Regions from separate parts of the Homo sapiens genome. Here region 2 is linked to region 1. The links come from fine-mapping of genetic effects on gene expression. A gene starts in region 1. The other region holds a variant in brackets. All regions are shown on one strand. Distances are between the middles of the regions. Region 1 holds the start of SIRT3 (sirtuin 3). Region 2 has its middle 5.5 kb from the start of SCGB1C1.

What was found. PIP is the estimated chance that this variant, and not a neighbour inherited with it, causes the effect.
Region 2: its variant is fine-mapped to the expression of SIRT3 in thyroid (GTEx, PIP above 0.99).

The regions. Positions count from the first base shown.
Region 1 is chr11:231,109-241,271 of GRCh38, reverse strand. SIRT3 (sirtuin 3) reads left to right here and starts at 4,930. Exons shown (of 7, transcript NM_012239.6): 1 at 4,930-5,224; 2 at 7,738-7,929; 3 at 8,057-8,289. The coding sequence starts at 4,944. PSMD13 (proteasome 26S subunit, non-ATPase 13) reads right to left here and starts at 4,296. Exons shown (of 13, transcript NM_002817.4): 1 at 4,128-4,296; 2 at 2,196-2,274. The coding sequence starts at 4,222. RefSeq lists enhancers at 4,045-4,284, 4,445-4,634 and a silencer at 4,785-4,864.
Region 2 is chr11:182,534-192,696 of GRCh38, reverse strand. It overlaps a transcript of SCGB1C1 not described here. Among named protein-coding and RNA genes, the nearest start is that of SCGB1C1, 5.5 kb to the left of the region's middle. The variant A/G (reference allele first, on the strand shown) is at 5,533.

The DNA.
Region 1 (10,163 bases):
AGCTACTTGGGAGGCTGAGGCATGAGAATGGCTTGAACTGGGGAGACGGAGGTTGCAGCGAGCTGAGATCTGCCATTGCACTCCAGCCTGGGCGACAGTGCGAGACTCTGTCCCTTTGCCCACCCAAAATAAATAAAATGGTGGCCAGGTGGTGGTTCACACCTGTAATCCCAGCACTTTGGGAGGCCAAGGCGGGTGGATCGCCTGAGGTTAGGAGTTTGAGACCAGCCTGGTCAACATGATGAAACCCTGTCTCTACTAAAAATACAAAAATTATCCAGGCGTGGTGGCGGGTGCCTGTAATCCCAGCTACTCTGGAGGCTGTGGCAGGAGAATCACTGGAACCCGGGAGGAGGAGGATGTAGTGAGCTGAGACTGTGCCATTGCACTCCAGCCTGGGTGATAAGAATGAAACTCCGTCTCAAAAAATAATAATAATAAATAAATAAAATGGCATTTTTATTACAAAAGACTATTTCAAAGATATCTTCCTTATTAGAAGGAAATGTTTGAACTTTCCTGACATGTATTAATCTAAAAAATTACCTTAAAAAAGAAGCCCACTAAGTCCAGAAAGTCAAAATTACTTCTGGTGACTATAAATTCAAAAATACTATCCATTTTACACTTATGCTAGCTGGATCCCAACAAATTTTAAAGGTTTATTCTGTCTATGGGAAAAGTAAACTCAGATCTGCCAACCTAAATAAACATCACCTTACCATGAGGTTGAGGAAATATTTTGTCATGTGTAGAAAAGTGATTTAAAGATAAGAAACCAAAGGACAGAGATAAACAATTATGAATCATCTATCGTGATGATTTAGAACCTTAGGGAACAAGTATTAAGACAGGTCTCAGGCCAGGCACAGTGGCTCCTGCCTATAATCCCAGCACTCTGGGAGGCCAAGGCAGGCAGATCACCTGAGGTCAGGAGTCTGAGACCAGCCTGGCCAACACTGGTGAAACCCCATCTCTACTAAGAAATACAAAAATCAGCTGGCTGTGGTGGTGGGCACCTGTAATCCCAGCTACTTGGGACGCTGAGGCAGAAGAATCGCTTGAACTCGGGAGGTGGAAGTTGCAGTGAGCCAAGATCGCACCATTGCACTCCAGCCCGGGCAACAAGAGCGAAACTCCGTCAAAAAAAAAAAAAAAAAAAAAAAAAAAGCAGGTCTCATTTATCATTTTCCCACATAATCCAGAAGACTGAATGTTCAGCAAAATCTCCAGGCTTACAGATGATTGTAAGTTCCTCTGAATAGTAAAATGTCAAATTGATGGCTATAAACCACAAGAAAATCTTACAAGCCCAGGTGGTGGGGTAGCAAGGTGGTAAGCTCTATTGCGAGCATATAAAAGTAATGTATTCAGGAGAAATGACTCAAAATGTAATTATAAGCTATCAGTTGCAATGCTGGTATGAATCTCTGATTCATTCAGAATCAGAGAAAGCCATCATAGAGTAAGATGTCAGGAAAAACTTCAAAGAGGAGGCTACCAGTGAGCAAATTCGTGGGGATGTGTCAGGGGATCTGGGGAAGGCTGGGAAAGAAGGTGCGTATTTGTCTACTGCTGAAAAAATTCTAAAAGTCCTCTATTACAGAGGCAGCATGACACTATACAGGACTCTCCCTCCAATCCACCTACCCTCAACCGAAGTACAAAAGGTGTTTTATTTTCCACACTACCCAGGACAGAAGTGTCTGGGCAAGCAAGCAGTGCGGCTTAAAGAAGGGGAGTGATGGAAGTTATCTAAGATTCCCACAGATAGTAATCTTCCTCATACCTTACTCCACCCTCTAACTGGGTTTGAACTTTGTTTCTAAAACTAGAGTACTAAAAAGAAGCCTATGAACTAAGATACTTAGGCATGTTGTAAGATAATACTTTATGCTAGAATTTCAAAAAAAGCCAGAATGTCAGTGTTTGAATCCTCTTCTGCCACTTATCAGCAGTGATCTATGGTAAGTTACTTAAAGTCTTATGTTTGCTTCTACATCAAAAAAGTGAGATAGTAGTATCTACTGACCAGCGTTGTCATGAAGGATATGTGAAGCGCTCAGACCAGTACCTGACGTAAAGTGACTGCTGAATATTGGAGCTTATTATTATTATTAGCATAAAGCCTATCTTATTTTCAAAAGTCCTTGAGCACATTCATATAATCTAATCTGGTATAGCAAATTATTTACCTTAATGAGACCATCTCCTTGGGCAAAGCACGGATCCTGCACAAAATCAAGCACCTGAAGTGTCAGCTGATGCCACAACCTGAAAAACATACAGCCCTTAAGACCTCTAACCTAATATCCAGTCACAGACACCTCCAGCCTTGATGATTCTATCAAGTCACAAATACAGGTTGGGTATCTCTAATCCAAAACTCCAAAACTCCAAAATTCAAAATGCTCCAAAATCCAAAACTTTTTGAGCACCAACATAGGGCTCAAAGGAAATGACCACTGGAGCATCTCAGATTTCAGATTTTTGATTTATGGATACTGAACGGGTAAGTATATATCGCAAATATTTCAAAATTTGAAAAAATACTAAATCCAAAAAAACTTTTGCCCCAATGCATTTCTTTCTTTCTTTTTTGAGACAGAGTCTGACTCTGTTGCCCAGGCTGTAGTGCAGTGGCGCCATCTCGGCTCACTGCAACCTCTGCCTCCCAGGATCAAGTGATTCTCCTGCCTCAGCCTCCCGAGTAGCAGGGATTACAGGCATGAGCCACTGCGCCCGGCCGCCCCAATGCATTTCTGATAAGGGATACTAAATCCATACTAACCAGTCTCTACGGTGTAGCAGAAAGAATGCTAAAGCAGATGTGATAAACCTGAGTTCTTTTCCTGGCTCTGCTATTGAATGGCTATGTCACTTTGAGATCACTTAACTTCTCTAAGACTCAGTTTTCCCAGGTATGAAATGGAGAACATTAATCTAGATTAACTCAAAGGGTTATTGTGAGGTTTCACTGGAAACGAGAACTTTGGAATCATACATATCTAACTTGAGATGCTGGCTCTTCTACCTATTAGCTGAGTATCTCAGGGAAGGCAATTAAAATGAGCTTCAGTTTCCTCCTCTGTGAAAAGGATGAATAAAGGATTAAATAAGCTAATATTTAAAACCTCAGGGACAGTGACATAGCGCTTCATCCAAAACCCAAAGGCTAATATTTAATAACGCAGATAAAATGCTTTGAAAATTACCAAGTGCTATCCAACACAAACCATTATTTGCCAAACATTAATTTGCTCTCAAAAACTGCTAATAGCAGAAGGCTGCTGAATGCTAAACATCATCAAAACATGTATGGAACATCTATGTGAAAGGTATTATATTAAATGCTAGGGTTAACAGGGAGGTTACTACAGGAGATGTATTTTCTATGGAATAGCTCCAGCCCAATGCCAGCAATTTATTCTACTCATATTAAAAGGAGGTTAGTGCTTAGCAAGAATTTAATTGCTCTGCAATTCATCCTGTTTCTAAACAAACCTAAACTTTAAGATCTTTCTAGGGGCAGAAAGCCCATGAGAAATACAATGGAAGGTAAAGACAATGGGACGGCGGAAGTGGTTGCACCCCGTGCAACCAGCTGCAGAATGAATAGGGAAAACAGCAAAGCTGTACTAGCCTCTGGTTTATCAACTCCAGACCATGAGAAAGATAACTGTAGATACAGTTACACTATGACAAGGCTAAGCACGAATCACCAACATGTTTCCCAAAGTGGGTGGTGGCCCTGAAAGTGTGTTTGCTTGTTAGATGGAATCAAGAGCTAAAATCAAAGGCTACTCCTGAACCGTTTTAGTAAGACCCGAGGTAGGAGTTCAGAAGCCTCAGTCTCAGTCCCCCGTTAAGGAAGCAGTGAATCTCAGACCGAAACATCCTGGCTACAGCTCTTGGCCCTCGTGGTCTGTCATCCCTCTTATTCCTCGACCCTGCCACTCAAGGTTCCTCAGCAAACCTTGCCGGCACAGCCGGTCGCTACACGTCCCCGTTTCCCCCCAACTTGGGTCTGGGCGCCCTCAGCCCATCAAGGGTCCGCTCCTCCGCCCGCCTGCCCCCTCCGTCTCCCTCTATCGCCGGGGCCCAGGGCCCGTCTGCTCGGCGCTCACTTCTTCGTGTAGAGCTCCTCCAGACGGTGCCACACAGCGGGCTGCCCGGGCCCGGAGTTCTGGCTCTGCTGTAGGAAGCCCGGTACGTCCTTCATGACAGCAGGAAGACCCCCGGCACAGAAGAACAACCGGGATGTCAGCACCGCGGGGATGGCTGCCGGAAATGCTCACTCACTTCCGGCGCCGAGCGGCGCGGGGCAGGCTGGGAGCGCCGTAGCAGGCCGGGGGCGGGCCCCGCTGGTTGCTCGGTTACAGCGCGTCTCTGCGCTCCGGACAAAACTCTCCGGCGTTTGCAGCCCACTTCCCGCGCACTTGGCTGTGCCATTGAGGCGTCAAAGAGTGTGGGCGCCTGTGGTCGAACCCGCTACGGACTAGCTTTGTGGTGTCAGCCTTTGTGACCCGGAATTGCTCCTGTCAAATGAGGATCTTCCCAGTAGTGTTTTGCGAGGATTAGGTGTAAATATAATGCCTGACCATAGTAAAAGCGCTCAGAAAGTATTAACTATCACCGCCATCCGGGTTGAAAAAGGTGTGAGCGCAGGGTACAGAAATGCTGGCTCCAGGTTTGACCTCCGGGGCGAGAGATGAGACACCAGACTAGGGAACTTCCTCTACTCGCCTCTACGTCTACCTGGGCGCGCCGGAGGCGTCGGCAAGGAGGCGGGGGCGGGGCGCGGAGGCGGGACCGGGGCGCCGGGGGCGGGGGCGGTAGGCGGAGGCGGGGCTGGGGCGCCGGGGGCGGGGGTGGGAGGCGGAGGCGGGGCCGGGGCGCCGGGGGCGGGGCGAGTCCGGAGGACTCCTTGGACTGCGCGGAACATGGCGTTCTGGGGTTGGCGCGCCGCGGCAGCCCTCCGGCTGTGGGGCCGGGTAGTTGAACGGGTCGAGGCCGGGGGAGGCGTGGGGCCGTTTCAGGCCTGCGGCTGTCGGCTGGTGCTTGGCGGCAGGGACGATGTGAGTGCGGGGCTGAGAGGCAGCCATGGGGCCCGCGGTGAGCCCTTGGACCCGGCGCGCCCCTTGCAGAGGCCTCCCAGACCCGAGGTGCCCAGGGCATTCCGGAGGCAGCCGAGGGCAGCAGCTCCCAGTTTCTTCTTTTCGAGGTATTTTGGGCAAGGACAAGCACTTCTTGCGTGTTCGTTGTCGACACCTCGCCCACTCTTTCTCACCTTGCCGTGTTTCCTTTGCGGCATGTCTGGGAGTTTACGTGCGTTCCAACACCGGGGCCTCCGTCTTTATGCTGATCTGTGGACGTCACTTATGGGGGTTTTGTCGTTTATTTCACCATTCCCTCATTGAAATACGTTCTAACCTTTAGTTATTGTGCATCATGCTGTGGTGAATAACCTTGTTGGCACCTCACTGTTTGCATAAATTCCTAGTACTGGGATTGCTAGGTCCAAAAGTATATGCATTTAACGCTTTAATGATCCCTCATAAATGTTGTGCGGTTAATACTCCCACTGGCATGTGATCGTACCCGTCTCCATAGTAATTGCATCTAAGAACTGAGGCTACATAGGAAAAAATCTTAAGGTCCATGGTTGTTAGGTATCAGATGCCCTATAATGGATGAATATTTAAGTAAATAATGGCACATTGACTTGCTGTCTGACACAACTGCTGAAAATGTTGGTGAAAAGTGAGTCTCGAAGTGGTAGCTCACACTTGTAATACCAGCACTTTCGGAGGCTGAGACGGGGATCGCTCGAGGCCAGGAGTTCAAGAGCAGCCTGGGCAACATAACGAGACCCCCATCTCTACCAAAAATTTAAAAATTAGCCGGGCATGGTGGCGCAAGCCTGTTGTCCCAGTTACTCCTGAGACTAAGGCAAGAGGATCCCTTGAGTCCAGGAGTTCAAGGCTGCAGTGAGCTATGATTGAGCCACTGCACTCCAGCCTGGGTGACAGAGCAAGACTCTTATCTACCTGTGGGAAAAAAAAAAGAAAAAAGTTTAATAGATCCTGAAGAGTTGGCCGGGCGCGGTAGCTCACGCCTGTAATCCCAGCACTTTGGGAGGATGAGACGGGTGGATAACGAGGTCAGGAGTTCGAGACCAGCTGGGCCAACATGGTGAAACCCCATTTCTACTGAAATTACAAAAATTAGCCGGGCGTGGTGGCGGGCGCCTGTAATCCTAGCTACTCAGGAGGCGGAGGCAGGAGAATCACTTGAACCCGGAAGGCAGAGGTTGCAGTGAGCCGAGATGGCACCATTGCACTCCAGCCCGGGCGAAAGAGCAAAAACTCCGTCTCAAAAAAAAACAAAGATCCCGAAGAGTCAGTCGTTCATCCAAGAAGCCCTGACTGAGCTCTTATTCTGTGCCAGACTCTGTTCTAGGTGCTATGGATGGAGCAGGGACCAGGACCTACAAACACGTGGAGCGCATTCTAATATCTGTGATACTCTGCAAAACTGTTAAAACAAATCCTTGCGGCCGGGCGCGGTGGCTCACGCCTGTAATTCCAGCACTTTGGAAGGCCGAGACGGGCGGATCACGAGGTCAGGAGATCGAGACCATCCTGGCTAACACAGTGAAACCCCGTCTTTACTAAAAATACAAGGAAATTAGCCAGGCGTGGTGGCGGGTGCCTGTAGTCCCAGCTACTCGGGAGGCTGAGGCAGGAGAATGGCGTGAACCTGGGAGGCGGAGCTTGCAGTGAGCCGAGATCGCGACACTGCACTCCAGCCTGGGCAACAGAGCGAGACTCCGTCTCAAAACAAAACAAAACAAAACAAAACAAAAATCCTTGCTACCACTGGCCCTAAAGCAGGAGGCATAGGGCTGCGTGTGAGGAGTAGTCCATTGCATGGGCTTCCTCCAGTTTGGCTTTGGATTTTTGAGCTCTCTGAATTTGTTGTTTGTGTCCTTTGCACAGTGTCCCTCCCAGGTTGCACCCATGCCTGCCCCTCAGGGTCCCCCACTCCCAGTGAATTTCACACCATGCAGCATGTACTTTAAGCCATACATCTTACGTATGTTCCAGACATTTGGTAAAACGCCGTTTATGTGTTTTTCAGTGACTCACAAACATTTTATTTACGTAAATGAGGAATGTACTCAGGCACCCTTCGTGATACCTTGCCCTCAGCAGGCACTCAACAGCAATAATAACTTTCATTCCTTTTGTGCTTCTCTTAACAGTTCGTGTTTAGTAGGAGCACAGTAGCTGTTTGGGGAACGACCTTAAGTGAATAGATGTCTGAAATGCTGTGTGAAGTGGGGCGCTTAATAGGTGGTGAGATGGTTTTAGAACCAGGGTTTTCCCTCTTTGCTTCTTGACTCCTTAACCAGTTTTCATTAGGAGACCCCTTTGGAGGTTTGCAGTCAGTCAGAGTTGAGTGCCTACTGAGTGTACTGAATTATGAAATGAGCACAGTTCCCATTAACCTGAATTTTTTGCTCCCAAGTAAGTCTTGATTTCTGATTTATGACTGCTTTTTGTTGTACCCCAATAGTCGTCTAAGAAAGGTGATTATTTTGAGAGGCCTGGGGAGACACACATGCTCATTCTCGAGGGTGGCGGTGGTGCAGAGGGCAGAGCCATGCTCGTTCTTGCTATCCTGAGATTGGTTGCTATCTGTTTCCTTTGCTGCTGTGTTTTTTTCTGTCAGTATTAAAGGTGGAAGAAGGTCCATATCTTTTTCTGTGGGTGCTTCAAGTGTTGTTGGAAGTGGAGGCAGCAGTGACAAGGGGAAGCTTTCCCTGCAGGATGTAGCTGAGCTGATTCGGGCCAGAGCCTGCCAGAGGGTGGTGGTCATGGTGGGGGCCGGCATCAGCACACCCAGTGGCATTCCAGACTTCAGGTACTGCCCACAGTCCCACCTGCCTTCTGCGCTCCCCTCCCCTGACTCCTGCCCTCCCCACTGCCCAGTTTATTCCACTTCCCTGTCCTCTTCCAAAGGCCTCAGAGCCTTTCTTCTCTCCCTGCAGATCGCCGGGGAGTGGCCTGTACAGCAACCTCCAGCAGTACGATCTCCCGTACCCCGAGGCCATTTTTGAACTCCCATTCTTCTTTCACAACCCCAAGCCCTTTTTCACTTTGGCCAAGGAGCTGTACCCTGGAAACTACAAGCCCAACGTCACTCACTACTTTCTCCGGCTGCTTCATGACAAGGGGCTGCTTCTGCGGCTCTACACGCAGAACATCGATGGGCTTGAGAGAGGTGAGCCCTCTGTGAGTCGCACACATTCTTTTTCTCCCACGGAGGCTCGGGTGCCTGTTTCTCCCAGGGAGGCTCGGGTGCCTGTTTCTCACAGGGGATGCTCGGGTGCCTGTTTCTGGGGACGGCCAAAACCTATCGCTTATGCTTCTTCCTTGGGACTTTTTTTGAGCCAACTAGTTAGGGCTTTGTTCCCAAGGAAAATGTCCTCTGGGTGTTTAAAGGCCACTGCTTGTTCTCCTGCATACCTGCAGAGCTGTGTATTTTGGGCAGAAGTTGACATTGTTTTGCCAATCTGGTGTGATGATCTCTTTTTTTCTTCTCTCTTTTAAGAAGTGTATTATGGAATTTTTTTGAGCACACACAAAGAGAGCAATGTAACGAACCGTCCTGTCCTCATCACCAGCACACAGCCAGTTCTTCCTGCGTCCTCACCACCTTCTTCCAAATCCCCAGATTATTTTGAAGCAAATCTCTCACATCATGAATTTAATCTAGAAATAATCTATAAACACATGAATGGATAGCTCTAGAGAATACTTTAAAAACAACTCCGGCCGGGTGCCGGATTACAGGTGTGGGATCACACCTGTAATCCCAGCATTTTGGGAGGCCGAGGCAGGTAGATCACCTGAGGTCGGGAGTTCGAGACCAGCCTGGCCAACGTGGCAAAACCCCGTCTCTACTAAAAATACAAAAAATTAGCCAGGCGTGGTGGTGTGTGCCTGTAATCCCAGGTACTCGGGAGGCTGAGACAGGAGAATCTCTTGAACCCAGCAGGCGGAGGTTGCAGTGAGCCGAGATCGTGCCACTTCACTCCAGCCTGGGCGACAGAGGGAGATTCTGTCTCAAAAAAATAAATAAAAATAAAAATAATTAAAAAATAAAAACAACTCTGATAGTGATTCACACTGAAGAATCACTAGTAATTCCTTAATATGGTCACACTTAGTCTGTGGTGATTTCTTGACCGTATCCATATGGTGCCCAAACCAGCGATTCACAGGTTGTGCCAACTTCTGGCCGTGCACCTAACGGAAGCACTTGGTGGGGCCTTTTCCTTACGTGCAGTGATGCAGACAGGTGCTGGGACAGTCAGCTCTCCGGGAGCCAGGCTCCCGGAGAGACTGCTGATGTGTTGTCAGTTAAAAAGAGGTGGCACCTTGGCTCCAGGAATGTGTTTCCTTGCCAGAAGGATCCCCTGACTTGGAACCACAGAGGCAGCAGCGGATGCCCCATGTTGGTGGGCTCTTCTCCCAGAGGTGCAGCAGGGCAGGCCTTGTGGGAAGGTGGGAGCTCCTGGCTGTGAGATTCAGCACTGCTGAGTTAGGGCAGCGACAGGGACTTGGGAAGCCTCCTGCAGCTGGGACCCTGGCTGTGCCACCGCAGCCTTTCAGAACCAGTTAATACTAACACAACTTTCATAAGAAGTCACTTTTTGTCTGTTTCTACCAAGCAATTCTTTTGGAATTTATGATATTTATATCCTCATTTTAACTTGGTATCTGTAGAATAGAAGATATGTTCCTGGATATTAGATATAAATTTTTGAGACAGGGTCTTGGCTCTGTTGCCCAGGCTAGAGTGCAGTGGCATGATCATAGCTCACTATAGCCTGAACTCTTGGGCCGAAGTGATCCTTTTGCCTCAGCCTCTGGAATAGCTGGGACTACGGGCATGCACTACCATGCCTGGCTAATTAAAAAAATTTTTTAAGACAAGTCTCACTATGTTGCTGAGGCTGGTCTCAAACTCCTGGCCTCAAGTGATCCTCCTGCCTTGGCCTTCCAAAGCACTGGGATTACAGGCATGAGCCACTGCACCCAGCCTGGTATTAGGTGTAATTTTTTTTTTTTTTTTTGAGACAGAATCTCGCT
Region 2 (10,163 bases), 49 kb after region 1:
TGTGCTGTGTGATCTGGGTCTGCATCTGGGGGTCTCCAATCAGGCAGGGGCCCCTTACTACTCAGATGGGGTGGCCGAGTAGGGGAAGGGGGTGCAGGCTGCACGAGTGGACACAGCTGTAGGACTACCTGGGGGCTGTGGATCTATGGGGTGGGGAGAAGCCCAGTGACAGTGCCTAGAAGAGAGAAGGTGGCCTGAGAGGGTCTGAGGAACATAGAGCTGGCCATGTTGGGGCCAGGTCTCAGCAGGAAGTGAGGAATGGGACAGGCTTGAGGTACATCTTCCATCAGTAGCCAGGATAGCAAGGAGGGCTTGGGGTTGCTATCCTGGGGTTCAACCCCCCAGGTTGAAGGCCCTGGGGGAGATGGTCCCAGGACATATTACAATGGACACAGGAGGTTGGGACACCTGGAGTCACCAAACAAAACCATGCCAAGAGAGACCATGAGTAGGGGTGTCCCAGTCCAGCCCTCTGACTGAGCTGCATTGTTCAAATCCAAAGGGCCCCTGCTGCCACCTAGTGGCTGATGGCATCCACATGGCCCTGGGCCACACGCGTTTAGGGTCTCTGTGAAGACCAAGATCCTTGTTACATTGAACGACTCCTAAATGAGCAGAGATTTCCACCTATTCGAAACAATCACATAAAATCCCATCCTGGAAAAAGCCTGGGGGATGGCACTAAGGCTAGGGATAGGGTGGGATGAAGATTATAGTTACAGTAAGGGGTTTAGGGTTAGGGATCAACGTTGGTTAGGAGTCAGGGATACAGTAGGGTCACCGGTAAGGGTTAGGGGTTAGGGGTAGGGGTTAGGGTTAGGGTTAGGGTTAGGGGTTAGGGGTTAGGGTTAGGGTTAGGGTTAGGGTTAGGGGTTAGGGGTTAGGGTTAGGGTTAGGTTTTGGGGTGGCGTATTTTGGTCTTATACGCTGTGTTCCACTGGCAATGAAAAGAGTTCTTGTTTTTCCTTCAGCAATTTGTCATTTTTAAAAGAGTTTAGCAATTCTAACAGATATAGACCAGCTGTGCTATCTCATTGTGGTTTTCAATTGTAACCACATTGTGGTTTCAATGTGTTTACTTGCCATCTGTAGATCTTCTTTGGTGAGGTGTCTGTTCAGATGTGTGTGCATTTTTAGTTGGGCTGTTTAACTTATTGTTTAGTTTTAATAATTTTTTATATATTTTGAAGACAAATTCTTTCTCAGATGTGTATTTTGCAAATATTTTCTTCAATATGTGGCTTGTCTTTTTGTTCTCTTAACAAGGTCTCTTCCAGAGTATAAACTTTAAATATTAAGAAATCCACACTGTCACTTCTTTTGTGTATATCTACCTTTTGTGTCATTTGTTAAAATTCATTACCAAACCCAAAGGCAGATAGCTTTTCTTCTATTGTTTCTTCTAGAAATTGTATAGTTTTGCATTTTTAGTGTAAGGATGATTTTGAGTGATTATTTGTGTAAGTTGTAAAGTTTTCGTCTATATCCATATCATTTCTTATGGTTTCCAATTAATCGTTCCCTCACTATTTTTGGGAAAGACACAGGATAGTGGGCTTTGTTAGAGTAGATAGGTAGCTAGACATGAACAGGAGGGGGCCTCCTGGAAAAGGGAAAGTCTGGGAAGGCTCACCTGGAGGGACCACCAAAAATTCACATATTAGTAGCATCTCTAGTGCTGGAGTGGATGGGCACTTGTCAATTGTGGGTAGGAGGGAAAAGAGGTACCTATGCAGAAAGAAACACCCTAGAACTCCTCTGAAGATGCCCCAATCATTCACTCTGCAATAAAAATGTCAGAATATTGCTAGCTACATGCTGATAAGGCCAAAGGGGACATTCTTAAGAGAAACCTGGCACCATAAGTACAGATTAGGGCAGAGAAGGACATTCAAAAGAGGCAGGCGCAGTAGGTACAAACGTGATCGCTGTCAGTGTGCCTGGGATGGCGGGAAGGAGGCTGGTGCCAGAGTGGATTCGTATTGATCACCACACATGTACCTCAACCAACAGTGAGGAGGTCCCACAAGCCTAAGTGGGGCAAGTTGGGGAGCTAAGGCAGTAGCAGGAAAACCAGACAAAGAAAACAGGTGGAGACTTGAGACAGAGGCAGGAATGTGAAGAAATCCAAAATAAAATTCCCTGCACAGGACTCTTAGGCTGTTTTAATGCACGCTCAGCCCACTCCTCCCTATTTTTCTACAATAAACTCTTTACACTGTGTTTCTTTTCAATGAAGTTATCTGCCATCTTTGTATTGCCTCTTGGTGAAAATGTTTCTTCCAAGTTAAACAAGAACTGGGACATCAGCTCTCCCCAATAATAGCTCCGTTTCAGTTTGAATTTACAGAACTGATGGGGCTTAATAACTGGCGCTCTGACTTTAGTGGTGCAGGAGGCCGTCACACCGGGACCAAGAGTGCCCTGCCTAGTCCCCATCTGCCCGCAGGTGGCGTGCTGCCACGACACCGACAGCAATAGGGTCCGGCAGTGTCCCCAGCTGCCAGCAGGGGGCGTACGACGACTACACTGTGAGCAAGAGGGCCCTGCAGTGTCCTCAGCTGCCAGCAGGCGGCGTACGGGCACCACACCATGAGCAAGAGGACCATGCAGTGCCCTGGTTGCCAGCAGGGGTCGTGCTGCCACTACACTGTGAGCAAGAGGATCCTGTCGTGCCCCCAGCGGCCAGAAGAGGGCGTGCCCCGACTACACTGCAAGCAAGAGGGCCTGGCAGTGTCCCCATCTGCCAGCAGGCGGGCGTGCTGCCACTACACTGTGAGCAAGAGGGCCCTGCAACGTCCCTAGCTGCCTGCAGGCGGCGTGCCGCCACTATATTGCGAGCAAGAGAGCCCTGCAGTGCCCCGGCGCCAGCAGGGGGCGCTGGCCACCACTGTAAGCAAGAGGGCCCTGCAGTTGCCCTAGTCGCTAGCAGGGGGCGCACTGGGACAGCACCGCGGGCAAGCGGGTCCTGTAGTGCCCGGCTGCAAGCAGGGGGCGCCCGAGCCCGGCTTTTTGGATTACTGAGGTTCAACCCGTCTCTGCGCCGCGCCCCCGAGGACGTGCGTCTCTGCGCCTACAACGCTCCACCCCCGCGCTCTCGTCCCGGTGGCGCGTGACTCTGCGTCTGCACCACCCACCTCCCCCCAAACCCACAGCCTAACGACGTGCGTCTCTGCGCCTGCGCCGCGCCTCCCCCCGCCCCCCAGGGGACGCGCCACTGTGCGCCGGCGCCCGCGCGCCGCGCCTCTGTGCGCCTGCGCCGGCGCGCCGCGTCTCTGTCAATTTAGAAAGCTTATTTTGCCAAGATTAAGGACACGACCATGACACAGCCTCAGGAGGTCCTGACGACGTGTGTCCAAGGTGGCCAGGGTAGAGCTTGCTTTTGTACATTTTAGGGATACATGAGACGTGTAAGATGTACAGTCATTTGGCCCAGTAAGGCGGGACAACTGGAAGCAGGAAGTGGGGGTGCTTCCAGGTCAGAAGTAGGTTAGAGACAAAAGGTTGCATTCTTTTGAATCCTTCATCAGCCTTCCACTGAATACACAATTTAGTCTGGCTCAATGAATCTGCATTTTTACATAAATAATAGGGCAGAGGAAGCAATCAGATATGCATCTGTCTCAGGTGAGGGATGACTTTGAGTGCTGTCTGTCCTTTGTCCAAAAGGAAATTCTTTGTGGGCAAATTGTGAGTGAGGTATGTAGCTTTTTATCTTTGTAGCTATCTTAGTTAGGAATAGAATGAGGGCAGGTTTGCCTGACATAGCTCCCAGCTTGACTTTTCCCTTGGCTTAGTGATTTGGGGGTCCTGAGATTTATTTTCCTTTCATGGTATCAGAACAGAGAAAAGGTAATGCGTTGAGCCATGAGCTTATGACAAGATGGCTAGGAAGGAATTTTTCAGCTCCATTTTTATGTCATGGGACCACCATCATATGTATGCAATGCACGAGTGTAAAATCACATTTAGTTAAGTCAGCTTACACTAAGCTATGGACCCAGATGGTCCTGGGGCCTTTTTCCACTGGGAGATCTTTAAGGACCTTTCTTAGCTTTTCTATGCTAATTGGTATATTCATAGTTGCCTTATTTCAGGGCCCATTTTGTTAATGTGTATTTTTACTAGGAAATCACCCATTTTTTCTAGGTTTCCAGTTTGATGCAATTATTTGACTTTTAATTTCTCCTCTGTTTTTAGTTTTGTACATAATTTTCCTATCTACTTTTGCACTCTTTTTTCCATCAACAATATTTTTAAAATATACTTTTTAGCTTTTTTTGAAGAATTGTTATGTTTGACAATTTTTTATGACCTAATCATGACCGTAAATGATTTTTAATTAATTTCAGCTTAATGTCTTTTGTAGGGCACAACTGTTAAAATACAGAATTACAACAAATGTGGGTTTGCAGATCTTAATTGGCTTTTTTTTGTGGTTCTAGAATCAGGCAGCAGTCCAGACCAAAAATGGTTCAGAATGATCTGCCACACAACATGTGCGGGTTATATTTATAGCCAGAGGAAAAAAGTGACATACAGAAAACAGAAGTGAGGTATAGAGGTGGCTGGATTGGTTACAGACCTGGTTACAGCCCGGATTTGCCTTCTTGGAACTTGTTTTGAACAGCTGGCTGCCGGCCATTGACTGACACTCGGCTGATGTGATTGGCTGAACCGCCGCTATTTGTTACCATGATACATTCCCAAGTCAGATTTTCAGTTTGTTTCTATACTAAATTAGGTTGCGATTCTTCTTGTTCTTCTTCTTTTTTCTTTTTTGAGGCGGAGTCTCGCTCTGTCGCCCAGGCTGGAGTGCAGTGGCGCGATCTCAGCTCACAGCAAGCTCCGCCTCCCAGGTTCACGCCATTCTCCTGTCCCGGCCTCCCGAGTAGCTGGGACTGCAGGCTGCCGCCACCAAGCCCGGCTAATTTTTTTGTATTTTTTTTTTTTAGTAGAGACTGGGTTTCACCTTGTAAGCCATGATGGTCTCGATTTCCTGACCTCATGAGCCACCCGTCTCGGCCTCCCAAAGTGCTGGGATTACAGGCGTGAGCCACGGCGCCCGGCCGCGACTCTTTACAAGGACTCCTCGGGAGGCTTCCAGAGCCCAAATGTTGTTTGATGTAAGAATTCCTCCCTTTTGGTCAGCCTCTCAATTTTGAGATATTGATCAAAACTTTGGGCATTGGTGTCACTCTTTGTTGTCGTTGTAAATTGAGTTATTAGGACTTATTTGCTTTCAGTGTGGCATTTTCAAGTTTTATTTGGTCTCAGTGCCCTCTGGGCAATAGCAGAACACTGTGTTGTGTAAGGCGGAAATAGAGCAATAGAAAATAACAACTGATTTGTTAATATCAGATTACTTCAAGTTACTTGTTTTGGTAAGAATTAAAGCAGAGGGGACTTCTTTATGCTGACTCAGGTAGACTGGAATCTCTTCAGGGAAAAAGGGAGCTCTTTTGGGATCTATCTACTTCCTTAGAGTTTCAGCTTCGTTGTGTGTCATTCAGCGTGAGTGTCTCCATTCTG[A/G]TTTTGCCTGCTCAGTGTGGCCTAGTGCGGGAGTGGTGACCGAAACAATGACCTCCCGTAGTTTGTTCCACAGTTCTCCCCTTTTGGTTGGGTTCCTGCCTAGGTGAGGGTGTGACTAAAACCTTAGGGCATTAGCGGTATTCTCAGTAACTATCATTTTAGGTTTCCGGTCTTAGGGCATTAGCACTATTCTCAGTAACTATCATTTTAGGGTTCCGGTCTTAGGGCATTAGCACTATTCTCAGTGACTATCATTTTAGGGTTCCGGTCTTAGGACATTAGCGGTATTCTCAGTAACTATCATTTTAGGGTTCCGGTCTTAGGGCATTAGCGGTATTCTCAGTAACTATCATTTTAGGGTTCCGGTCTTAGGGCATTAGCGGTATTCTCAGTAACTATCATTTTAGGGTTCCGGTCTTAGGGCATTAGCACTATTCTCAGTAACTATCATTTTAGGGTTCCGGTCTTAGGGCATTAGCGGTATTCTCAGTAACTATCATTTTAGGGTTCCGGTCTTAGGGCATTAGCGGTATTCTCAGTAACTATCATTTTAGGGTTCCAGTCTTAGGGCATTAGCAGTATTCTCAGTGACTATCATTTTAGGGTTCCGGTCTTAGGGCATTAGCACTATTCTCAGTAACTATCATTTTAGGGTTCTGGTCTTAGGGCATTAGCAGTATTCTCAGTGACTATCATTTTAGGTTTCCGGTCTTACGGCATTAGCGGTATTCTCAGTAACTATCATTTTAGGGTTCCGGTGTTAGGGCATTAGCACTATTCTCAGTAACTATCATTTTAGGGTTCCGGTCTTAGGGCATTAGCAGTATTCTCAGTAACTACCATTTTAGGGTTCCGGTCTTAGGGCATTAGCACTATTCTCAGTAACTATCATTTTAGGGTTCCGGTCTTAGGGCATTAGCAGTATTCTCAGTAACTATCATTTTAGGTTTCCGGTCTCAACACATCATTTAAGAAGTCAGTAAAGCTTTCTTCTACTGTGACAGCATATTTAATACTGAGAAAGAAAAGAAAATTTTTATCTTGCGAATGTGAGCTTCCTCTAAATTATCAGGTCCAGAGAGGCGTGGGAATGAGGCAGCAGTCACGTCCCATTTCCCTCTTAGCTAAGTAATCATATCTTGAAGCTGCTTGCTATGTAGACTAGACTGACTGTCATCAGCTATAGATTAACCTAAGAGTGTCTTTGAATATTTTTTCCAGTGGCAAATATTTGCTTCTGTTGTATCGTAGCTGAAAGGAATGCTGGGAAACAAAATAAAGACAAGCATTCATTAGAATAAGTGATCCAGTCACAATGAATCAATTTGAACTTTTTTTTTTTTCACAAAGTCATACTTTGAAAACTTCCAGCCGTAAATTGAAATAGTCTCCAAAATGTGAATTTTTTTCCCTGGTTCTAAGATGACCAGCTTTCTTAGAGAGTGAACTACACCATAAGAAAAATGATATGACCATGTTTACACATATATGTTATCTTAACATAAAACATGTAAAAGGGGCATTTCTTTGAAAGTATATATTAGTCTGTATAATTTACTTTGCAGTATCATGAATGCTCTTATTTTTAAAAGTAGGAGTAGTTACTGTCAATTACTAATTTTTAGTACAAATAATTTAGCAGATATCTGAAAAAATTACAATTTTTAAATAGAGGTTTTATTTTAAATTAGTTTTAGATTCATACAGAAATTGGGAAGAAAATGCAGATTTCCCATGTAGACGCAACCTAGTTTCCCCTCTTTTTAACATATCAACATGTATCAGATAGGTTTAACATCTTTTTTTTTTTTTTTTTCCAGACCAGGTTTTTTTTTTTTTCAACCAGGCTGGAGTGCAGTGGCGTGATCTCGGCTCACTGCAACCTCCGCCTCCCAGGTTCAAGCGATTCTCCTGCCTCAGCCTCCTGAGTAGCTGGTATTACAGGCGCCTGCCATCATGCCCGGCTAATTTTTGTATTTTTAGTAGAGATGAGGTTTCACCACGTTGGCCAGGCTGGTCTCGAACTCCTGATCTCAGGTGATCTGCCCGCCTCAGCCTCCCAAAGTGCTGGGATTACAGGCATGAGCCACCACTCCTGACCAACATCTTACATCATTTCTTGTCATACTTAATGACTGGATATTACTATATTATTAAATAAGCTCACATCTTATTTGGTTTCCCTTAGTTCTGCCTTTTTCTCTCCCAGGATCCTATCTAGGATCCCATAGGACATTTAGTCATCATGTCAGGCTCTTCTTGGCTGTGACAGTCTCTCAGACTTTACTTCTGAGGACCTGGAACAGTGTTAGGAGGATTGGTCAGGTATTGTGTAGAATGTCCTCCATTGTGGTTTACTTGGGGTTTTTCTCATAATCAGCCTGGGTTTAGGGGTTTGGGGGAAGCAGAGCAGATGTGTAGTGTGTCCACAAAAAGAGTCAAAGACTGTAAAATATTTGAAGAGATGTATTCTGAGCCAAATATGAGTGACCATGGCCCTTGACACAGCCCTCAGGAGACCCTGAGAACATGTGCCCAAAGTCGTTGGGGTGCAGGTTGGTTCTATACATTTTAGGGAGATAGGAGACATCAATCAAGTGTATTTAAGATATATATTGGTTCGGTCCAGAAAGGTGGGACAACCCAATGGATTAGGGTTGGGGGGTGGGGCTTCCAGGTTATAGGTACATTTAAAATTTTTCTGATTGGCAGTTTGTTGAAAGACTTACTATCAATAGAAAGGAGTGTCTGGGTTATGATAAGGGGTTATGGAGGCCAAGGTTTTATCATGGAGATGAAGCTTCCAGGTAGCAGGCTTCAGAGAGAATAGATTGTAAATGTTTCTTATCAGATTTAAGGTTGTGTTGATGTTAAATGCTGATTGGCTTTTCCTGAATTCCAAAAGGGAGGAGGGCATAATGAGGCATGTCTGACCACCTCTTTCCCATCATAGCCTGAACCAGTCTTCCAGGTTAACTTTGGTGTCCCCTGGTGGAGAGGTGGTTGTGGGAAAGATCTTTGAATTTTATTTTTGGTTTGCAAGTGCTAGTCTAGTCACTTCATGCTCTCAAGATGTGTTATCACCATTAATGTTAACTTTTATCACTTGGTTGAGGCAGTGTTTTCAGGTTTTTCACTGTGAAGTTACTTTTTTCCCATGTCTATATTGTATGTATGCTTTTGGAGGAAGTCATCATGCAGAGCTCATACTTAAAGGAGTGGGGAGTTAGCCCCACCTCCTTGATGGCTGTCTATATCAGGTATTTGGAATTCTTCTGTGTAAGAGATTTCTATTCAGTCCATTTGCATATCTGTTTAATCATTTATTTATACCAGTATGGGTCCACAGATAGTTACTTTAATCTTTTGGTTGTTATCTAATTGTACAGTATTTTGTTGCTCTTTGTTCATACCTGTGGCCATTGGTAGCTCTTTCCACTGGCTCCTTTTACATAATTTCATGTTTTTTTTTTATAATTTATTTCTGTTACTTCAAAAGTACCCTGGCTCATATATTTTCTGTCCCAGTCCTAGTTTCAGCTATTTCTTCTAATAGCCCTGATTTCTTTTGTTAGAGAATGGTATGAAAAACTTACATCTGGCCACTAAATGTGGTCATTGCATCATGACACTTAGAGCTGACAGTGCAAAGAAATATATGTGTGTCTTCTAACTTATATGTACCCACTTAATTATAAAGGTTTCTATGTGGAACCATCTATGTATATGTTAAGCTAAATGTGAGTTTATACTTACGTTGTATATATATATTCTGACTCATTATGACAGAGATCATTCTAGGCTTCCCTATTTTTTATCTGTAACTTCTCGCTGTAATAGTGAGGAACCTGGCTCCTACTATCTGCCATTTATTTCATCCCCTGTACCATTGGGAACAAGGAATTCATTCTTGATCAAGATTCCAGGTTGGGACTTAATAAGAAATATATGTTTGGTCTGTGTCTGCAGTTCCTGGTACAGAGCTTCTAAAACTATTATAATTTCCTGAACAGTAGGGGTGCTAGGAGCATCTTGTGTTCTAATATTTGGTCTTTGGCCCTGGTTCCTGACGCAGAGTTCCTAAATCTCTTGGAATCTCCTGTATAATAGGAATGGCTTCTGTTCTAATAAGGACACTCTGTGGGTTCCTGGATGGTTTCAGGATGGGGATGGTCACCAGAAAGACCAAGCCATGATAAGAAGGTTCTGACTTTTAGCTTAACATGCAATCCTTTGAGGGTGTGAAGGGACTGGAAATTGAGTTAATAATCCGTCATGTCTACATGATGAAGCTTCCATAAAAATTCCTAAAATATGGAATTTGGTAAGTTCCAGATCAAGGCTGACAGATTTGATGTCTAGTGAGGGCTCATCTATCATAGATAGTGCCTTCTAGCATGTCGTGACATGGCAGAATGGGGAAACGGGCTCCTAGATGCTTTTATAAGGGCACTGGTTTCATTCATGAGGACAGCACTCTCATGATCCGATCACCTCTCGGTTACCTCTGAATACCATCCCTTTGGGGATTACATTTCAAAATAGGAATTTGGGGTGGGGGTGTACACACATTGAGACCATAATAACTAGTAAACATAAGTAAGTATTTCCTAGTTCCATAAGCCATCATA